Homo sapiens: one gene and its partners. The protein of the gene in region 2 purifies or fractionates together with the protein of the main gene of each other region. This does not show direct contact. Each region holds a gene or a part of one and is shown on either strand. Other genes may lie near its edges.

What was found.
Region 1: the proteins of C9orf40 (region 2) and GLB1 purify together in Homo sapiens (co-immunoprecipitation; 2 studies listed by BioGRID and IntAct, with this or other methods). This does not show direct contact.
Region 3: the proteins of C9orf40 (region 2) and PLOD1 purify together in Homo sapiens (affinity purification with mass spectrometry; 2 studies listed by BioGRID and IntAct, with this or other methods). This does not show direct contact.

Annotation. Positions count from the first base shown.
Region 1 is NC_000003.12:33,066,147-33,073,179, forward strand, and holds part of GLB1 (beta-galactosidase isoform a preproprotein), read right to left. Parts: intron 6,568-7,033; coding exon 6,398-6,567; intron 2,825-6,397; coding exon 2,674-2,824; intron 2,145-2,673; coding exon 2,084-2,144; intron 1-2,083.
Region 2 is NC_000009.12:74,949,881-74,957,215, reverse strand, and holds the start of C9orf40 (uncharacterized protein C9orf40), read left to right. Parts: upstream 1-4,303; 5' UTR 4,304-4,604; coding exon 4,605-5,030; intron 5,031-7,335.
Region 3 is NC_000001.11:11,937,684-11,944,716, reverse strand, and holds part of PLOD1 (procollagen-lysine,2-oxoglutarate 5-dioxygenase 1 isoform 2 precursor), read right to left. Parts: intron 196-7,033; coding exon of another isoform or gene 55-195; intron 1-54. UniProt on the Homo sapiens protein: Part of a complex composed of PLOD1, P3H3 and P3H4 that catalyzes hydroxylation of lysine residues in collagen alpha chains and is required for normal assembly and cross-linkling of collagen fibrils.

The DNA of each region.
Region 1 (7,033 bases), on a different chromosome or scaffold from region 2:
CGAGGACCAGTGTGCCTGTATCCATCTGCTATGGTTGGAATGTTTGTCCCTCTGAAACTCATGTTGAAATCGAATCCCCAATGTGGTAGTATTGAGAGGTGGGGCCTTTAAGAGGTGTTGAGTCATGAGGGCTCAGCCCTCATAAGTAGATCAATCCACTCATGGATTAATAGATTAATAGGTTAATGGATTCATGGGTCATCATGGGAATGGGACTGGTGGCTTTATAAGAAGAGGGAGAGAGATCTGAGCTAGGACACTCAGCCCCCTCACCATGTGATGCCCTGTGCCCCCTCAGGACTCTGCAGAGTCCCCACCAGCAAGAAGGCCCTCACCAGATATAGCCCCTCCACCTTGAACTTCTTGGCCTCCATAACTGTAGGAAATAAATGCTTTTCTTTATAAATTACTCAGTTTCAGGTATTCTGTTACAAGCAACAGAAAACAGACTAAGACCATCCTTGCCACAGGACACAAAGCCTGGAGCATAGAACATATCCAAGCAATGTTTGCTGAATGAAGAAAAGAGTGACTGAACAGTGTATCCTCTTCTCAGTCACAGGAAGGCTTTTTTTCCGTATAAAATGAAGTTCTAATAAATTCTATATTTATATTGTCAAATAGGAATAATAAATGTACATGCCACATAAAGTTGGCATAAAGATTAAATGAGTTACCACAGTGAAAACACCAATAATATGCTAAGCGTGCAAAACATGAAGGTACTGGAGTAAGACAAAGAAAAAAACTATCATTTACACATTGCTCTATAAAAGTGGCCAGAATATAGAAGGCATTGCAGCTACCAAGCAATCCAATGACACCATCCCAGAAACTGTCATTTTGTTTTTATTTCTTTTTTTTTTTTTTTTTGAGACAGAGTTTCGCTCTTGTTGCCCAGGCAGGAATGCAATGGCGCAATCTGGGCTCACTGCAACCTCTGCCTCCCAGCTTCAAGCAATTCTCCTGCCTCAGCCTCCCGAGTAGCTGGGATTACAGGCATGCACCACCACACCCAGCTAATTTTGTATTTTTTAGTAGAGACAGGGTTTCCTCATGTTGGTCAGGCTGGTCTCGAACTCCTGACCTCAGGTGATCCACCCACCTCGGCCTCCCAAAGTGCTGGGATTACAGGCATGAGCCACTACGCCCGACCTTATTTCTTTTTTTGAGACAAAGTCCCTCTCTGTTGCCCAGGATGGAGTGCAGTGGTACAATCATGGCTCACTGCAGTCTCAACCTCCCAGGCTCAAGCAATCCTCCCACCTCAGCCTCCCGGACTACAGGCATGTGCCAGCACACCTGGCTAATTTTTATAGAGATAGGGTCTCGCTATGTTACCTAGGCTGGTATCAAACTCCTGGGCTCAAGCAATCCCTCCACTTTGGCCTCCCAAAGTGCTGAGATTACAAGTGTGAGTCACCATGCCTGACTTGTCATTTTGATTAGCGAGGTGCTATCATTGGCTGTGGAATATGCTAAGTAAATAGGAAGAGAAAGCACTGAAGTCAGTTGGTCAACCGCAAACAGGGTTCAATACCAATTCAAAGAATTACCAGTTTATCAGTAAGATCTGGTTACGTAGTTCAAAGCCTAATTTCCTAGAGGTTTAGTTTGTTGCTATGCACTGGTCAGTGATAAACACTCAGACTTTCACTAAACTTTCAAAAGTATTTGTGCAGAGGTACCCCAGCCTTCAAAATACCTCCCCCTTTTGATATAAATTGTTGAAGCTTTTTTGTTTGTTTGTTTGTTTTGAGACAGAGTCACGCTTTGTCACCCAGGCTATAGTGCATTGATACGATCTCGGTTCACTGCAACTTCCGCCTCCAGGGTTCAAGCAATCCTTCTGCCTCAGCCTCCTGAGTAGCTGGGATTACAGGCGCCCACCACCATGCCCAGCTAATTTTTTGTATTTTTAGTAGGGGCGAGGTTTTGCCATTTTGGCCAGCCTGGTCTCGAACTCCCAACCTCAGGTAATCCACCCGCCTCAGCCTCCCAAAGTGTCAGGATTACAGGCGTGAGCCACCGCACCTAGGCTGAAGCTTTTATAAATCTTCTCAAGACATCTGTAACAACCTACCTGGGTCGGAGGAGCGGAGAAGAATAGACTCTTTCTCTAGCAGCCAAGCAGGTAATCCTCCCTAGTTCAGGGAAAACAAGCCATTATAATGTCTGTTCCGTGAAGGGTGCTCAGAGGAGATAGAAATTACTATTAGTAGTTATGGAAAAGAATAAAAGCTTCAAGGGACAAGGGGTATTTGAGCTGGGCTTTTTGGTTTATAACTTGCAGAGAAATTAGAAATTGGAATGTAGGACAATTAAGATCACTCTGCATGAATGCAATGTTTTAAGGACCAAAGCCCTTTTCATAAAGATTTTTCAATTTAATTTCACAAATACCCTGTGACGTAGATAGAGAAGACACCATTAACTGCTTCTTACAGATGAGCAAGCTGAGGTATGTGAGTGACCACCAAGAGGAGAGCCCATGCCCTGACCCTGGCCTGTTTCTCTGCCTGGGCACCTTGTCAAGGTAAAAGACACCTGTGCTGGGTACAGTCCCAGGCCCCATGCTCTCTGGAATGCAGGTCTGCTTTAATTCCCTTTGCCCCAGAGCTGCTGCCTGCCAGCTCACACACACCAGGTAGAGCCCAGTCTAGCCACACTCACCATTTCCCACTCTGCACAGATGTAGGGCCCGGGCCTCAGGATAACCAGCAGTCCCAGCTCATGAGCCAGCCGAAGAAAATATTCCACATCATGGTCCTCAGAAAACTGGTACTGTCCTGGCCAGGGCTCATGAAAGTTCCAGGGCACATACCTGCCAAGACACACACAGCCCCTTCCTGGATACTTGGCAGAGTCAAGAAGAAAGAAGCGTGGGGAAAGGGCCTCATTAGGACTATTGCTAACACATGGATAAGAGGGAGAAGGCGCTTTGAAAGAAAAATTATCCAAGGCTGGGCACAGTGGCTCAGGCCTCTAATCCCAGCACTCTGGGAAGTCACGGTGGGTGGATGGCTTGAGCCCAGGAGTTTGACACCAGCCTGGAAAACATGGTGAAACCCCGTCTCTACAAAAAACACAAAAAAATTAGCCAGGGTGTATGCCTGTGGTCCCAGTTACCCTGGAGGCTTGAGGTGGAGGTTTGCTTAAGCTAGGGAGGTTGAAGCTGCAGTGAGCTGTGATTGTGCCACTGCACTCCAAACTGGATGACAGAGTGAGACCCTGTGTCAAAATAAAGAAAGAAAAGAAAAGAAAAATTATCCAGAATTTGGATATAAGGCAAAAGGGTGACTGCATTTCCTTTCCATGTTATAATGGAGGACTGTCCAATGGGCCCACTGAGGCTTCCTTCATTCTCCAGGGGAGATATTTTGTTTGACTTACTATTTACTATTGATTAAGGGAAGAACTTTGAAGTTACAGATTAATTTGTAGATTATTGCCTGAGAGAGAAACAAATGATTGTCATACAGAGAAGACAACTCTAAAGGTTGCTTTTTCATTCATTGCCCTTTATGATACTAACCAGTTTTATCTCTAAAGATAACTTTATTTGAACATGACTTTCTTGACTGACCGTAAACCTCCCTTCCTCAAATTCTCCTTTGAATTAGCTTTACCATCTAGCTAGTTTCCTCAGTAATAAGTTAAATAAATTTTTAAAAACTTTTATTTTAGGTTCAGGGGTACATGTGCAGGTTTGTTATACAGGTAAATTGCGTGTCATGGGGGTTTGGTGTACAGATTATTTAGTCACCCAGATAATCTGCCTAGTACACGATAGGGGAACTCACCCTCCTCCCACCCTCCACCCTCAAGTAGGCCCCATTGTCTGTTGTTCCCTTCTTTGTGTCCATATGTACTCGATGTTTAGCTACCACTTATAAGTGAGAACATGTGGTATTTGGTTTTCTGTCCCTGTGTTTGCTCAGGATAATAGCCTCCAGCTGCATCCAGTTTGCTGTAAAGGACATGATCTCATTCTTTTTTGTGATTTTTGTAGTATTCCATGGTGTATATGTACCACATTTTCTTTATCCAGTTAAATAAATTTCTGACATATGTCCATTATATACTTGTTTGTAAGTCAGGTTTTTAGCTTTTTGTAATTATATTTTGCATAAATAATTGAATTGAGGTGCTCTGTGGAAGGGGAAAGAGCTCAAAAATCCAGTATCCTACATAAATTTCTAAACTGTCTATAGAGAAAGATATGGTGTAGAACCATAAACCACAGGACACATAGACCTTCCCGCTTGGCAGCCTCTTGGGAGGGGCCTTGTTATGAATTTTTACAGCAGCTCCCCAAGCTAGTCAGACTTCATGGGGACACTTCTTAAAATCAACAACAACAACAGAAAACTCCAGAGTTATATCAGCACTAATTCCTATTACATAAAAATTATAGCTGGGCACAGTAGCTCTCTTCTGTAATCCCTGCACTCTGGGAGGCCAAAGCAGTAGGATCGCTTGAGTCCAGGAGTTGAAGACCACCATGGGAAACATAGTGAGACCTCATCTCTAAAAACAAAGCAAAACAAAAAAATTAGCTGGTGTGGTAGCAGTGCCTGTAATCCCAACTACTCAGGAGGCTGAGGTGGGAGGATCACCTGAGCCCACTTTAAGGTTTCAGTGAACTATGATTGAGCCACTACATTCCAGCCAGGTGACAGAGCAAGACCCCAGCTCTAAAAAATTGTTTTAATAAATAAAAATAAAAATTATATATGTCCATGTGAGGCTTAGGAAAAATAAGAATATTTTGCTGAAAAGTAGTAAGAGACATATTTATTTTTTGAAGAAATAATTTTTAGTACGTGTAGGAAAAACTCCAAGCCCTAGATCCTCTGACAAAAGATTTTGTCAGGAATCATGTGGCAGGAGGTAAAATGACAAAACCTTCTACCAGCTCCTCTGTCTACCTACAGACAGCATGGGATACAAAGTTAAATATGGAGCCATCCATTACCATCACAAAGCTCTCTTTGAAGACCCTGGGTTGTGTCATTTTGCGTGTGTGTGATCCCATGATTTCAGGGTTCCCTGGAACAGTCTTGGTCTTCCAGAACTCACTGTCGGAATTATAAACAGGTGAACTTGGGTTCACTCTGCCAGTGGCCTTAGAACCAGAATAATGAGCGCATTCTCCCTAAGTATCTATCTTCGGAATCTGCCTCTGGGTTTTCTCACTCTTCATCTTTGAGAAGTTATCAGCAATCCACATCAGCACTGCAAGAGCCAGAGCAGCCAGCCACACCAACTTTCTTGCCTGTTAGTTAGTTACTTTGCAATAGCAAAAGAGATGCAGAGAGATAGCTATTGGGATAATTCTACACCCTGAAGTTATACAATTACCGCAGCAGAACCACAAAGCCAAACTGGGTTTCAGAAATCTACCTAAGCACAAGGCTTATTCTGTTATTGGGGCTCAGAAAACAATACCCCAAAGTATGGCACCTTGGCATGCTAAGTACTTTGAACTAAAGGAGATCGGAAGGCCTTAGAAGCAAATCTTCTTTCTCTGGCCTTCTCCTGCTCTTCTGTTGCCCACCCCTCCTTCTCCCCTGAAGCAAGTCAAACCAGAATTCATCTTCCCCCAGTGTGGGTCATAGAAATTAGAACCCCTCTCTCCCAAAGCAAGCCAGAAAACCTAGAAAGGTCACCTCTCCCTTCTCCCTTCTAGACCCTCATTGCAGAGGGGTCCTGCTCCATACCCAGAAGGAAGGAATGCCACCCAGAAAGGCCAAGAAGAATCTGTTGAGGCAGGCCTTGAGGGTTTCCCACTTCAGTCCACCACCATTAGGTCAGAACCTTTCATGGAATCTAAGTGTAAAAAGTTTTCCTTGGGTCTTCTTTTCTGAAGACTCTCATGTCAGATAAAACTTACATATCTGTTATGCTTTTCTCCTGTTAACCTAGCTTTTTGTATGACTACAGCCATACCTGTGCTACAGCTGCCTGCATGCCTTCCCTTCCCTTCAAATACTAGCTGAACCTCTGACCAAAGATATGGCCTTGGGCAAATTTCAGTTTCACCAGCTATAAACAGGAACAATAATACCTATCTCGAGGAAATGGAATCATTAGTATAAAGTGCCCTGTATCTGGTAAGTGCTCAATCATTGTTACTTCTGTTTGCTTCCCCCATCCTTTTCCTTTTTAAGCTATTTATTTAATGATTTCTGATGATTAAAATTGAAGATTGGAAGAAGTAGTTAATTATTTGAAAAAGGGCCAGTCCGGCTCATGACAAGCCCCTCCCAGAACATCACACTGGACCATTTCCCATTTCTGAGCAATAAAATAGCCACCCTGAGAAATACAGTTGTATCTTCTCTCCAGAGTGGGTGTTCAGGCCTAGGTGAGAGCCACATGCCCTCCTACTTACGTCTGGATGGCGTTCAGCCCAGCCATCTTCATCTTCAGCAGCCGGTCCTTCCAGTAGAAGCGGGGCACACGGGAGTAGTGAATGCTTCCTGAGATGTAGCGAAATGGCTGGCCATCCTTGAGGAAGGAGTCCCGGCTATAGTCAATTTCAAACATCCTCTGGGTGGCATTCTACAGAGCAAGGATGGGGTCACATGAGAACTTCCACCTTCTGCATTTCAGAAGCCGATCCTTTGAGAGTAGCAAGTGACTCTCTGCCTATTGAATTTGTATAATGTGCTGATGGACTTAATGCTTGTTTTCTGAGCTATCATACAAACCATTGCTAAGCCAGGTCCACCAGGGGTACTCAGGTAAGAGAAATCATCTAAGAGGATCCACATGCAGGATTCCATAAGGCTTAGCTTCTAGAGGCCAGCACTGAGCTGACAATCAGTGGCTGAGATGATATTCCACTGTGCTGTTCATGGGGCTGGGGAACATCACACACACACACGCATGCACGCACACACGCCATTGTTGCTGTGACCTGCCTGAGCACTGGATGCACCTCAACAACAATGTCACTGGGATAACCAAGACCCATTAACAAAATTCTAAGTGTAAAATACAGGGCAAAAAGCAATGGATTAAAACT
Region 2 (7,335 bases):
TGTGAGGCTTCAGTTAGTCTGAAACACACAAGTTTAAAGATAAGCAGAATAAGTTTGTGTGTATTCCTTTTTCAGTAAGAAGAAAAAAAGTTTCCCTTCTTTGTTGTTTTGTTGTAACTAATGACTTCTGAGTTATTATCCACAAAATTATGGGATATGTAGAATAGGTAGAAGATCCTATTACATCAATAAAAAATGCATTTAGATAGGGCAGGGGGAGGGGTGCAAGGTATTTATGTTTTACATAAAGTGGTACAATGTTAGCTCGAACTAGACTGTGAAAAAATAAAGATGTATATGAACAGTCCTTATGGCAACCACATTATTAATTCAAAGAGGTATAGCTAAGTAAATACCAATAGGTTAACTTAAAATGAAATTCATAACGATAGGAAGGAGGTAGAGTAACAAGAAAGGAAATTTTGAAAGTATTTCAAACTGAAAGATAATAAAAATACAACATACCAAAATTTGTAGGATGTAGCCCAAGCAGTGCTACAGGGAAAGTTACAGCTTTAAGTGTTTATTTTAGAAACTAACAAAGACGGCTGGGCACGGTGGCTCACGCCTGTAATCCCAGCACTTTGGGAGGCCGAGGTGGGTGGATCACCTGAAGTCAGGAGTTTGAGACCAAGCTGGCTAGCATGGTGAAACCCCACCTCTACTAAAAATGCAAAAATTAGCCAGGTGCGGTGGCATGCACCTGTAGTCCCAGCTACTCGGGAGGCTGAGGCAGGAGAATCGCTTGAACCTGGGAGGCAGAGGCTGCAGTGAGCCAAGATCGTGCCACTTCACTCCAGCCAGAGTGACTCTGTCTCCAAAAAGAAACTAACAAAGACTACAATCAGTGACCTAGGTTCTATTAGAAGAAGCTAGAGAAAGAAGAGCAAAGTAAATCCAAATTTAGTAGAAGCCAATGAAATGGGAAAAAGAGAAACTAAGAAAATATTCCAACAAATGTGATGAATGAAATGGACAAATTCCTTGAACAAGTGGATCTGGTACTACTTACAACTTAGGGTAAACTAATTTCAAATTCTACTTCTGGGGCCTTAAAAAAAAAAGAACCCAGAGCAGCAACAAAAACTCAGAAAATGTTATTTAAAAAGAAAAAGAATATTGTCTACAAAAATTATAAAGTGCCTAGGGATAAACTTAACAAAGATATAAGCTCTTTATGTTGAGAAATATAAAACTTTATTGAAAGATTTTTAAAAACTTAAATAGTTATATTCTTGAACAGGAAATGAGCTTGGTATTGTAAAGATAATAATTCTTCCCAAATTGATCTATAATCTCAATGCAATTATAACCAAAATTCCAAAAGGGTAACTAAATGTTACAGAGGATGCTATTATGGAAGAACAAAGGGCCAAGTATAGTTGACACACTCCTAAAGAACAAGATGTCAAAGACTGCTCTCAAAACTTTGATCATCTTGATGGTGGTTATGGTTTCACAGGTGTATGAATGTCAAATTGTACACTTTATATGCACATTATTGTGTGTCATTTAGACCTAGGTAAAGCTGTTTTAAAAACAAAAACAAAAAAAAGCCCGGCAAAACAAGCCTGGGCAACATAGTGAGACCTTGTTGCTACTAAAAATAAAAAATTAGCTGGGTGTGGTGGCACAAGCCATGGGCCCAGCTACTTGGGAGGCTGAGGCAGGAGGATTGCTTGAGGCCAGGAAGTTGAAGCTGCAGTGAGCAGTGATCACGCCACTACATTCCAGCCTGGGCAACAGAGCAAGACCTGGTCTCAGAAAATATATTAAGCTGGGTGTGGTGGCTCATGCCTGTAATCCCAACACTTTGGGAGGCCAGGGCAGGCAGATTGTTTGAGTTCAGGACTTTGAGACAAGTCTGGGCAACGTGGCAAAACCCTGGCTCTACAAAAAAATTTTAAAAATTAGCTGGGTGTGGTGATGTACACCTGTAGTCTCAGCTACTCAGGAGGCTGAGGTGGGAGGACTGCTTGCCCCTGAGAGGTCAGGGCTGCAGTGAGCTGTAATCATATCACTGCTCTCCAGCCAGGGCAACAGAGCAAGCCCCGTTTCAAAAAAAAAAAAAAAAAAGTTATTTAGCAATATACATACAGACATACAAATGGAAGAGTTAAAAAGCAAAGGAATGATTAACTCAACATGTAAAACGGTAATTACCGGGAGTGAGGGAAAGGGAAGGGTATGTGCCAGTGGGGAAGGGACGCATAGGGAGCTTGTCATGTTCTAGTATAGGTAGTATTCTATTTCTGAAACAGAATGCTGTATGTCTTACTATCATTCTTTTAACTACATGTGTATTTTATACAACCTTTTGCATATATGATAAGTTTCACAATTTTGAAAAAATGAGCGTTTGTAAAGAGGAACACAAAAGAACCAACCATTAGCTAAACTTATTATTTTGGGGGTACTCAAAACCTTTCAAACAGCACTTGATGACTACGATTAAGATCTTTCCTGCTGATTTAAAAATGGCAAAACTCTTCCTCTGTTTGAGACAGACGGGTTTTCAATTTATTTTTTTTTTTTTGGAGACAGGGTCTCACACTGTCACCCAGGCTGGAAGTACAGTGGTGCAATCTTGGCCTCTGCCTCCAGGGTTCAAGCGATCCTCCCACCTCAGCCTCCCTGGGACTACAGGTGCAAGGCACCACCTCTGGCTAATTTTTGTATTTTCTGTAGAGATGGGGTTTCACCATGTTGGCCAGGCTGGTATGGAACTCCTGGGCTCAGGTGATCTGTGCACCTCATCTTCCCAAAAGTGCTGGGATTAAAGACGTGAGCCACCGCACCCGGCCGGTTACCAATTTCAAACAAGAAAAGTAAAAACCAAACAGAAAAGCTATTGCTTACTACCCTAACTTGGTACATTTCTGTGCTTGTTAATAACTAATAATTAACTTGTCCTCTCACAACCACCTTGAGATGCAGGGGTACAGGGTAAATTAGTACTGAGATAGTACCTAGCACTAAAATAGAATTATCTTTCTTGCACACTTTTTCTACAGAGGATGATAGTTTTTCCCTTCAAAGCACTGGTAATAGTCTTATTTTCTTCCTTCCATTTCTGCTTACTTGGTTACTGTCTTTATCAAACTATTAAAATAGTAAATACGACCAGATGCGGTGGCTCACACCTATAAACCAAGCACTTTGGGAGGCCCAGACAGGAGATCGCTTGAGCTCAGTGGGGCCCGGCTGCAGTGAGCCGTGATGGCACCACTGCACTCCCGCCTAGGTGGCCGAGAGAGACCCTGTCTCAAACAAAATAAAAAATAAAAATAATAAAATAGTAAATATACTGCAATTGTCTCCACCTCACTTCACCTGACAACACTATTTTGCTGTAATGGCCATAGAATCTTGATCTGACCACCGCCCATAGTAAGCAGGGAACTCAGCCTTCCAACATTAATTAAGAGCCCAACAATTTTAGGTTTCAGTTAGAAAGGACAGCTGCGCTTCAGGCTTGGTTCTTGCCAACTACTCAGCTATTTTGGATGAGCTGCACATTTTGTCTGTAACTTCCTCCATAAGTTTTTAATCAAGAGATCTTCCAGGAATGTAGGGCCTGCTTCACCTTCCACAGCAGCTGCGCAAAACATGCAAAACATACACTTCGATTTGTGTTTTCTGTTAGCTTTAGCTACTTCCCTCAGCCCAGACTCCCTTCAGTCTTTTGTTTTGAATAACAACCTACTGTGAAGCTTCTTAAACACTAGTTTTATTTAAAGCTTGTATTATCCTTTTCCTTTTTTTTTTTTTTTTTTTTGAGACGGCATCTCGCTCTGTTGCCCAGGCTGCAGTGTAGTGGTGCGATCTCTGGCTCACTACAGCCTCCACCTCCCAGGCTCAAGTGAATCTTCCTCCTCAGCCTCCCGAGTAGCTGGGACCACAGGGGCAGGCCAACAAGCCTGGCCTATTTTTGATTTTTTGTAGAGACGAGGTCTTGCTATGTTGCCCAGGATAGTCTGGAACTCTATTATAATCTTTGTCTTAATCTCATGGAGACGCCCCCGTGGTCACTGACTGGAGGAAGGAAATACACATTTTAAAGGTTTTAAATTTCCTATAGAAGGGTCTAGAACGTACCGCGCTATAACGAACATAGTAGTAAGACCACCGCCACACTCCTGAGGAAACAAGGTCACGCCCCTCTGCGGGCCGCTTGATCGGGTCTTTAATTAATCCCGCCGCGGCCTTCCCGCCTACCCCCGAGCGCGCACTTCCGGTCGCGAGGGCGCTCGGGAGCGCGCCCCGCGAGCCTCCACCAACCAGCGGCTCCGCCTGGCCAGACAGAGTGCGCGCGCGCACGTTGTGCGCAGGTTCGAATCTCCGCCGCTTCGCGGTTGCTTCTCAACGTCCGGGCCGCATCTCGGCGGCGGCGAGGGCTGAGCGCGGGAGCTGCCTCCGAGCCGGAGCCCCAGCCCTAGGCCCTGCGCGAGCTGCCCCGCCCTACCCCCTCCAGCGTCCTGTCGCCTCCTCGCCCGACTTCGGCCTGTCCCTCTCTCACGCGCTCAGTCCTCGCTCTTCGCCCCCCGCAGCTATCGGCACTCGGTCTCCCGCGCCTGGCGGGCTCCGCCCGAGCCTCTGGGCCCATGGCCAAGCGGCGTGCGGCCGAGCCGGTGACGTTCCACGTGCCTTGGAAGCGGCTCCTGCTTTGCGACTTCGCTGAGCAGCCGCCGCCACCGCCTCTCTGGATCCGGCCGCCCGGGGTCGCGCATGCTGGGCAGCTCCTCGGCGTCCCAGAGCAGCACCGAAAGCGCAAAATCGACGCAGGGACCATGGCAGAGCCCTCGGCTTCGCCCAGCAAGCGCCGTGACAGCGGGGACAACAGCGCCCCGAGCGGCCAGGAGCGTGAGGACCACGGTCTGGAGACAGGCGATCCGCCGCTGCCGCCGCCGCCCGTACTGCCGGGGCCGGGGGAGGAGCTCCCGGGCGCCCGGCTCCCGGGGGGCGGTGGCGACGACGGGGCGGGGCGCGCAGGACCCCCGCGGGGAGACTGGGGGGTCGCATCGCGCCAGGTAGGGGCTGGGGGCGGGTGGGCTGAGGGGCGAAGGGGCTTGCCTTTTCCCCACACACACAAAACGCCCCGGTTCCCACTCATGACTTGTGTAGGTTAAGACGCCTGAGGGGGTTGAAAGAAGGGGTCACCGCTCCGGGAGAGGACGCCGACCGCCAGAAGCACACCCCGAGAGTCCGATGGGCAGAAAGCACTGGGCTGGGCGAGGGGGAAACAGACCGTGGTCGGGAGCGATAGAAGTGGCCTTGCGGCGTCAGCGCCGCGCTCCGTAAAAGGGAAACGGGACCGTGGGTCGTGGCGGGCTGTGAGCATGGCGAGAACGCAGACCGTCAGGGCATAGGTTCAGCCCAAAGACAAACGACAGATAAAGGTGTAGAGGGCCTTCCTGGGTTTAACGATGATTAGTCTAGAATTCGGGATAGAGTTCTTTTTCTAGAGGGAGACCAGTGTGGTAGCCATTGATTAATTGAACGTCCTACCGGCTGGTACAGCTTCTGGAGAAAAGGATGGACCACCGTACCTTGGTCAAAGCTTTGTTTTAACTCATAGTGTTAAATCTGATCCTAGGCAAAAGTATCATTGAAAATTAATTTGGGGGCGGGGCGTGGTGTCTCACGCCTGGAATCCCAGGACTTTGGGAGGCCACGGCGGGTGGATCACCTGAGGTCGGGAGTTCGAGACCAGCCTGGCCAATAGGGTGAAACTCTGTCTCTATTAAAACACAAAAACTAGCTGGGTGTGGTGGTGTATGCCCGTAATCACAGCTACTCGGGAGGCTGAGGCACAAGAATCACTTTAACCTGGGAGATGGCGGTTGCAGTGAGCTGAGATTGGGCCAGTGCACTCCAGCCTGGGCCACAGAGTGAGACGCTGTCTCAAAAAAAAAGAAAAGAAAAGAAAGAAAAAAGAAAATTAATTTGGGCCTTAAGGCGTATATGAGAATCATTGGCGGGTTTTTATTCAAGACATGAGCCTGCCTCATCTCTGCATGTAAGAATCCTGAGAAGATCTAGGTATGCCTCGGTTTGCCTAGATCTCTGCTGCCCGGCCGCTAGCCGGTAAGAACACTTGAAACGTGACTAGTCCAAATGGAAATGTGCTCTAAGTTTAAAATATACACGAAATTTCGTGGATTTAATAAATGAAGATAAAATAGCTCAATTTTATATTGATTACACATGAAATAACTTGGCTATATTGAAGAAAATATATTAAAATTAATACCAGAAGTTTCTTTTACTTTTTAAATACAGCTACTAGAAAATTTTAAATTATGTTTTTGGAGCATTATATATTTATTGGACAGCTTTGGTCTAGACTTAGGAATTCATACTACTTTTTCACAATCCTGAATGGCAGGGGACTTGGGAGATGAAGAACCAAGTACAGGTTTCTCAGAATTCACCAAATTCTCTTCAGCTGTCTGATAGCATCCTCCCAACGTTTTTCTATTTTCTCAAGTATCTTATGTCAGGGTTTTCAAATACCTTTCCAAAAAAATAAATGAAATTTCTTAGGCATGACTTGTTCATGTGAAAAATCCAATAAAATAACGAGAGTTTTATAGTTGGGAAAGACTTTTTTTTTTTTTTTCCTATGGTTGAAACATGAGCCTTATTTAAACTTTTTCTTCAGATTGCTCTCAGATATTCAAAATCAACTGAAAACAGATGGATAGTCTTCTAAACCATCCATCCATAATGGATATGGAGATTAGGGACTGTGTAGTTTGAAAACTTTTTGAAAGCTCTTCAGACCATTTTAGTACTCCACTCATGCATAGGCTTGTCTCCTACCAGAATACAGAATACACTGTCTATACTATGCCACACAGTGATAAGAGGGAAATATGGAAATGGCAGTAGGCAAAGCGTAAGAGTTCTCTAGTAGCCTGAAACGGTGATGCTTGCTTAGTCTTAGACTCAACTCTTTTCCCCCACAGCAGTAACTAGATCTGGCAGCTCTCTACTTCCTATAGTCGCTGCAAGCGCATGACAGGGAAAAAGGTTGGCTCCAGGGGTTCTTTCTTCACCAAGACTACCCTTGTTCTCTTTGTTGTTTTTTAAAAAAGGGTCTTGGGGTCTCGCTCCCATGCCCAGGCTGGAGTGCAGTGGCACCATCCCAGCTCACTGCAACCTTAGCTTCCTGAATAGTTGGGACTGCAGGTGCACACCACCACGCTGGACTAATTTTTTTTTTTTTGTGGAGATGGGGTTTTGCCATGTTACCCAGGCTGGGCTCAAGTGATCCTCCCGCCTCTGCCTACCAAATAGCTGGGATTACAGGCGTGAGCCACTGTCAGGCCC
Region 3 (7,033 bases), on a different chromosome or scaffold from region 2:
GGGGAGGAGGGGGTGGATACACCAGGCAGGTGTGGGAAGGAGAGGCCTCACTACCTGAACCTGGGATCCAGAAACGAGGGATGCTGCTCACACTTGGGGAAGGGCTCCCCCGAGCTCCTGCCAGGACGGTGAAGTCTCTCCCCAGGTGAAGAGAACCAGAGCCACCAGCTCTGAGGCCCTCTTGGCAACAGGGGGCTGCTGGGGACAGGAAGAGTGTCACATTTCATGGATGGAAAAAGCCAGCGTGAGAGCATGTGAGTGAGTGTGTGTGTGTGTGTGTGTGTGTGTGTGTGTACGCGTGCATGCGCAATTCAGGATTCTTGATGGAACAGGCTCTTGAACTCCAGCAGCAGGGGTGGGGGAAGGGGATGGGGTGGCGTGGCTCAAAGCCCCTTTCTCAGGTTCCTGCTTCTCAATAACAGCAACAATAATGGCTTACCTTCATCGAGCATTTTCTGTGTGCCAGACACAATTTTTTTTTTTTGAGACAGAGTCTCGCTCTGTCACCCAGGCTGGAGTGCAGTGGCTAGATCTTGTCTCACTACAACCTCTATCTCCTGGGTTCAAGCGATTCTCATGCCTCAGCCTCCTAAATAGTTGGGATTACAGGTGCCGGCCACCACGCCCAGCTAATTTTTTGTATTTTTAGTAGAGATGGGGTTTCACCATGTTGGCCAGGCTGGTCGCAAACTCATGACCTCAGGTGATCTGCCTGCCTCAGCTTCCCAAAGTGCTGGATTACAGGCATGAGCCACCGTGCCCAGCCAATGCTGTTCCAAGCACTTCACACATACTAACCCCCGACTTTCCAGTTAGGAAACCAAGGGTACAGCTGGCGAGTAATGTGCCCAAGGGAGCTAGGAAGCAGCAGCACCAGGACTTGGACACAAGCCTGAACCCAGAGTCTCCTCTCTTAACCTAAATGCATGCACTGCCCAGCCAGGGACGGTGGCCAGGCCATCTGTTGAGAGGGCCCTGTCTCTCTATCTATGTAAGGGAGCTGTCTAGCTGTGCCCTCCCCACATGCCCACTTTCCTCCCTATAACCTGTCTATTCCCTGTTTTCCAGGGAAACAGTGCTGCTGAGAGCCCACACTGGGACCTTAACCCCCAGGTTCCGTGGCCAGGCGTGGTGACTCACGCCTGTAATCGCAGCACTTTGAGAGGCTGAGGCAGGTGGATCACCTGAGGTCAGGAGTTTGAGAGCAGCCTGGTCAACATGGTGAAACCCTGTCTCTACTAAGAATACAAAAATTAGCCGGGCGTGGTGGCACATGCCTGTAATCCCAACTACTCGTGAGGCTCAGGCAAGAGAATCGCTTGAACCCGGGAGGTGGCGGCTGCAGTGAGCAGAGACTGTGCCATTGCAGTCCGGCCTGGGCGACAAGAACAAAACTCTGTCTCAAAAAAAAAAAAAGAAAGAAAAAAAAAGCCGGGCACGGTGGCTCATGCCTATAATCCTAGCACTTTGGGAGGCCAAGGCAGGTGGATCATGAGATCAGGAGTTCAAGACCAGCCTGGCCAACATGGTGAAACCCCATCTTTACTAAAAATACAAAAATTAGCTAGGCATGGTGGTGGGCGGGAGCCTGTAATCCCAGCTACTCGGGAGGTGGAGGCAGAGAACTGCTTGAACCCAGGGGGCAGAGATTGCAGTGAGCCGAGATAATGCCACTGCACTCTAGCCTGGGTGACAGAGCAAGTCTCCATCTCAAAAACAAAAACAAAAAACAAAAAACCAAACAAACAAAAAAAACTCCCGGGTTCCTTGGGCCACGCAGAGCCTGCCTCTCTGGTTGAGGATCCCACGTGATTGTCCAGTTCAGAGGGTCCCAAACCTGCCCACACATCAGCATCACAAGAGAGGTTGTGGAATCCAGGCTCCTAGGCCCCAGGGCTAGGGGTCTGAGGTGGGCCCAGGAGTCTGGATTTTTCCTACCTTTCCCAGGTGATTTCTGATGTCAGCCACATTTGGGAATCACTGGTCCAATCCATCCCCTTGGTCCGCTGACACTGGGCTGCAATGCAGGGGTCTGGGAGGCGGTTCACAACAAGAGAACTGAAGGCAAGCCCTCCAACAAGAGACCCTGGCATGACCTCCTAACATCCCCAAGGAAACAGCCTCAGTAAACCCAGCCTGCACCCCATTCCCTTGACCTGTCTGCAACACACATTCCTTCCCCTAAAGAGGCCTCCAGTCTACCTCCTCCAGGAAGCCCTCCTTAATCTCATCCCATGTGGTCACTCCTTTGCACGTGCAGTCTTGGTTTGCCCAGTAGTTGACGTATTGGTACAAACCTGCTCCTTCTCCCTCTGCCAGGCCAGGGCCACATCTTTATTTCCTTGGTCTCCCTCTCCCTCACCATGGCTGGGACTGGGCATGACCAAGACACACTGTACATTCTGGCCTTAAGCAGCTACGTGAGGCCTGACACAGTGGCTCACACCTGTAATCCCAGCACTTTGGGAAGTGAGGGGAAGCTGAGGCAGGCAGATCAGTTGAGATCAGAAATTTGAGACCAGCCTGGCCAACATGGTGAAACCCCGTCTCTACTAAAAATACAAAAATTAGCTAGACGTGGTGGCAAGAGCCTGTAGTCCCAGCTACTCAGAAGGCTGAGGCACGAGAATTGCTTGAACCCAGGAGGCAGAGGTTGCAGTGAGCCAGGGTTGTGCCACTGTACTCCAGCCTGGGCAACAGGGTGAAACTCTGTCTCAAAAAAAAAAAAAAAGGCCGGGCACAGTGGCTCACACACCTGTAATCCCAGCACTTTGGGAGGCCAAGGTGGACAGATCACCTGAGGTCAGGAATTCAAGTCCCACCTGGCCAACATGGCAAAACCCCGTCTCTACTAAAAATACAAAAATTAGCCAGGCAGTGGTGCATATTACATACTGCAAGTTATACGGTGGTGCATGTAATCCCAGCTACTAGTCCGGGCGCGGTGGCTCACGCCTGTTATCCTAGCACTTTGAGAGGCCTAGGCGGGCGGATCACCTGAGGTCAGGAGTTTGAGACCAGCCTAACCAATGTGATGAAACCCCGTCTCTACTAAAAATACAAAAAAAATTTAGCTGGGCATGGTGGCAGGCGCCTATAATCCCTGCTATTCAGGAGGCTGAGATAGGAGAATTGCTTGACCCAGGAGGCAGAGGTTGCAATGAGCCCAGATTGTGCCATTGCACTCTAGCCTGGGCAACAAAAGTGAAACTCCATCTCAAAAATAATAATAATAATAATAATAATAATCCCAGCTACTTAGGAGACTAAGGCAGGAGAATCACTTGAAACCAGGAGGCAGAGGTTGCAGTGAGCCAAGATTGTGCCACTGCACCCCAGCCCGGGTGACAGAGTGAAACTCTGTCTCAAAAAAAAAAGCAGCAACATGGAAGGTACTTTTGTACTTTTGTGGTGCCACTGCACTCTAGCCTGGGTGACAGAGCAAGTCTCCCTCTCAAAAACAAAAAACAAAAAACAAAACAAACAAACAAAGTACTTTTAGGAACAGCTACCACCACTGAACCCGGTGAGATACCGTGTGCTGTATGAGGCATGTTACATTCATTATCTTATTTCACGGTCAACACTCTACGAGGAAGGTGATATTTTTATCACTGCTTCTTCGGGTGAGGAAACCGAGGCACAGAGAGGCTAAATACCTGACCCAAAGTCACAGAACCTTTAGGTGAAATGGGAATGAGTTGGAATTCTAAATGCCCATGCTCTTGTCTTCATTTCCCTGTCCAAGAGCCCAACATCCTAAGATGCCAGACTCCTGGCTGCAGACAAAAGCCAGCGCTTCCAGTGCCTTCTCTCTGGCCTCTGCAGCACAAGCACCCAACTGCAGTCACGTGGTGAGGTCTTTTCCCAGCTCACTGTTAGGCCAGGCCAGAGAAACCCTTAAGGCATGGATGTGGAAGATTCATTTTCGAGTACCAAGGCCCCTCCCATCTGCTTTCTGTCTGGTCCAGCCAGCTGCCTTGGGCTAAGGCCAAGGCCTGGCACCCAGAGCTCTCAGCCCTCCCCACCTACTGCCCAAAGTCCAGCAATGACTTCCCCAGATGAACCCGTGATCCAGGATCAGCAGAAATCAATGAGATACAACAGAGAGGGTGCTAAAGACAGATTGCTGGGCAGGGAATTTAGCCTCTCCGTGCCTCAGTTTTCTCATCTGTAAAATGGGAATAATACAGATGATAGTACCTCCCTCCAGAGACTTTCATGAGGATTCAATGAGCCAATGCCGTAAAGCGCTTGGCACAGTGCCTGCCTTGGTAGCTGCGGGGGGGTTCTGGCGACAGGGTGCCTCCCCTAAAGGGGAGCTGTGTCTTGGTAGATGCTGCCCTGGGGGTCAGGAATAAAGGGGAGCTGCCTTCCTGAGAGCAAGAATGATGCAGAGGGTGGGGTGGCTCACACCTGTAATGTCAACACTTAGGGAGACCAAGGCAGGAGGCTTATTTGAGGCCCTGAGTTCAAGACCAACCTGTGCAACAAAGTGAGACCCTGTCTCTACAAAAAATTAAAAAATTAGCCAGACATGGTGGCACGCACCTCTAGGCCCAGCTACTCAGGAAGCTGAGGCAGGAGGATTGCTTGAGCCCAGGAGGTGAAGGCTGCAGTGAGCTATAGTCATGCTACTGGGCCACAGGAATTAGCCAGGTGCAGTGGCTCACACCTGTAATCCCGGTCTTTGGGGGGCCAAGGTGGGGATGATCACTTGAGCCTGAGGGTTCAAGACCAGCCGGGGCAACACAGTGAGACCCTGTCTGTACAAAAAAATAAAATTTAGAAAAACTTTTAAGAGAAGAATGATGTGTGCGGTGGCTCACACCTGTAATCCTAGCACTTTGGGAGGCCAAGGCGGGTGGATCACATGAGGTCAGGAGCTCGAGACCAGCCTGGCCAACATGGCGAAACCCCATCTCTACTAAAAATACAAAAATTAGCTGGGCATGATGGTGGGCGCCTGTAATCCCAGCTACTCGGGAGACTGAGGCAGGAGAACTGCTTGAACCCAGGGGGCAGAGGTTGCAGTGAGCTGAGATCATGCCATTTCACTCCAGACTAGGTGAGCGAGACTCCATCTCAAAAAAAGAAAAAGAAAAAGAATGATGTGGAGAGACTGACGGTGAGGGCTTGGTTGGGGTGTGCGTATGTGATGAGCTCCTGGAAGAATGGGACCTCTGGGCACCCCTGGTTTGACTGTGCCACCGGATGCCCCCTCCTCCCCAAGCAGTCCCAGCCCAAGGCGTGGGTGGTCACTGTGTGGCCTGAGTCAAGGCACAGTCATGACACACCCAGTCTGCTCCCTGGGGAGGCGGGAATGAATGAAGCCCTTCCGCCCTCTCCCCTCCCCCATCCTTCATCCCCACCCCAGGCTTGAACTGAAGCCAGGAACAGGGTCTGGCAGGAGCTTGGGATGCCCTGCACGTGGGAGCCAACCTTAGCCTCCCCGGGGCCAGCTGCCCACTTAGGTCTCCCCAGACCCGGCCCCACCCCCACACCATCCAGTGCAGCCTGACTGACTCCTGGGACCCTTCTGTTCTCTAGTAGGGAACAGCATGACCTGAACGGCCAGCTGAGCCTCTGATCTCTGCAGCTGTCCTTCTCTCACCACGGCCAAATCAAGGCCCACAGGGAAAGGCAGGAGCTGGAGATCTGCTAGAAGTTTCTACAAACGGGAGGAAGGGCTGTGGGACATCTGACCTCGGCTCTAGGGATATCTGCCTGTTTGGATGTTGCCTTTTATTCTCCCAGTTCCCTGTGATGGAAGATATTGCTTTGTTGAAGCCTTCTTGTGTCTCCCATCTTGTTCTGGAAGCCCCCCCAGGATGGCGCAACATCTCTTCCCTCAGACGTGGGGTGTCTACTGAAGTGAGGTGCTCTGTACCCCCCTCTCATTGGGAGCCCCCAAAAGTGAAAACGGTCCATGTTTCTCTCCATGCACCAAGGCCATGCGTTTTGGGTGAGGGGACAGACAAGCTGCTGACAGCACCCCACCCATCTCACTCCCCGAGACTCCACAGCAAATCCCCTTCCCTACTCCAGCTGAATCCACCTCAGTAGCTGCCTCCTCCCATCCATCTGCCAGGGAAAGGGAAGAGCTGGCCTCTTTGGGGGCTGCTGGGGTACCCCCCACCAAACACACACACTAGTCAGTGGGATGCTCAGGCAAGACCTGCAGGGAAGATGAGCAACCCACTCTGTCCTCCTGTCCAGCTGGCTAAAGGTCACACCTCAGCTGGGTCTGGGGGAGCTGAGCAGGCTCCCCCAGGCAGCATTTCCAGGCAACAGCACCCCCTTCCCGTCCAGAGGTGCAGAAATGAACAGTAGGTCTGAGTTCCAGACAATGACCCCACCTCCAACCAGCTCTGGCAATGAGAGACCAGATGTTTAACCTACCAGGACCTCAGTCTTCCCATCTCCAAAATGGAGTTGATGATTTCTTACTTAGCAAAGGGATCCTGGCCGGGCGTGGTGGCTCAGGCCTGTAATCCCAGCACTTTGGGAAGCCAAGGTGGGCAAATCGCTTGAGGTCAGGATTGAGACCAGCCTGGCTAACATTGCAAAACCCCGTCTCTACTAAAAATACAAAAATTAGCCAGGCATGGTGGTGCATGCCTGTGATCCCAGCTACTTGGGAGGCTGAGACAGGAGAATCGCTTGAACCCTGGAGGTGGAGGCTGCAGTGCGCTGAGATCGTGCCACTGCACTCCAGCCTGGGCGACAAAGCGAGACTCTGTCTCAAAGAAAAAAAAAAAAAGAAAATGAAAACTTAAAAAAAAAAAAAAAAATGGAAAACAGGGAGGGATCCAAATGGAGAAGGGAAGCAAAGGGCCCAACTCAGACTGGCCTGACATTAGCCCCAGGCCTGGGGATCTGCTCTCTTGTGCATCAGTGAGCACAGATGTGCTTTCTACCTACCAGGTGCTCTACCTGGGTTACCTCAGTAGCACACTGATCCTGTCCTCCGCCCATAGCAGCACCCTCTGTGAAGGCTTCCTTGGATCTGCTCTGCCCTCCTCCTGTCACT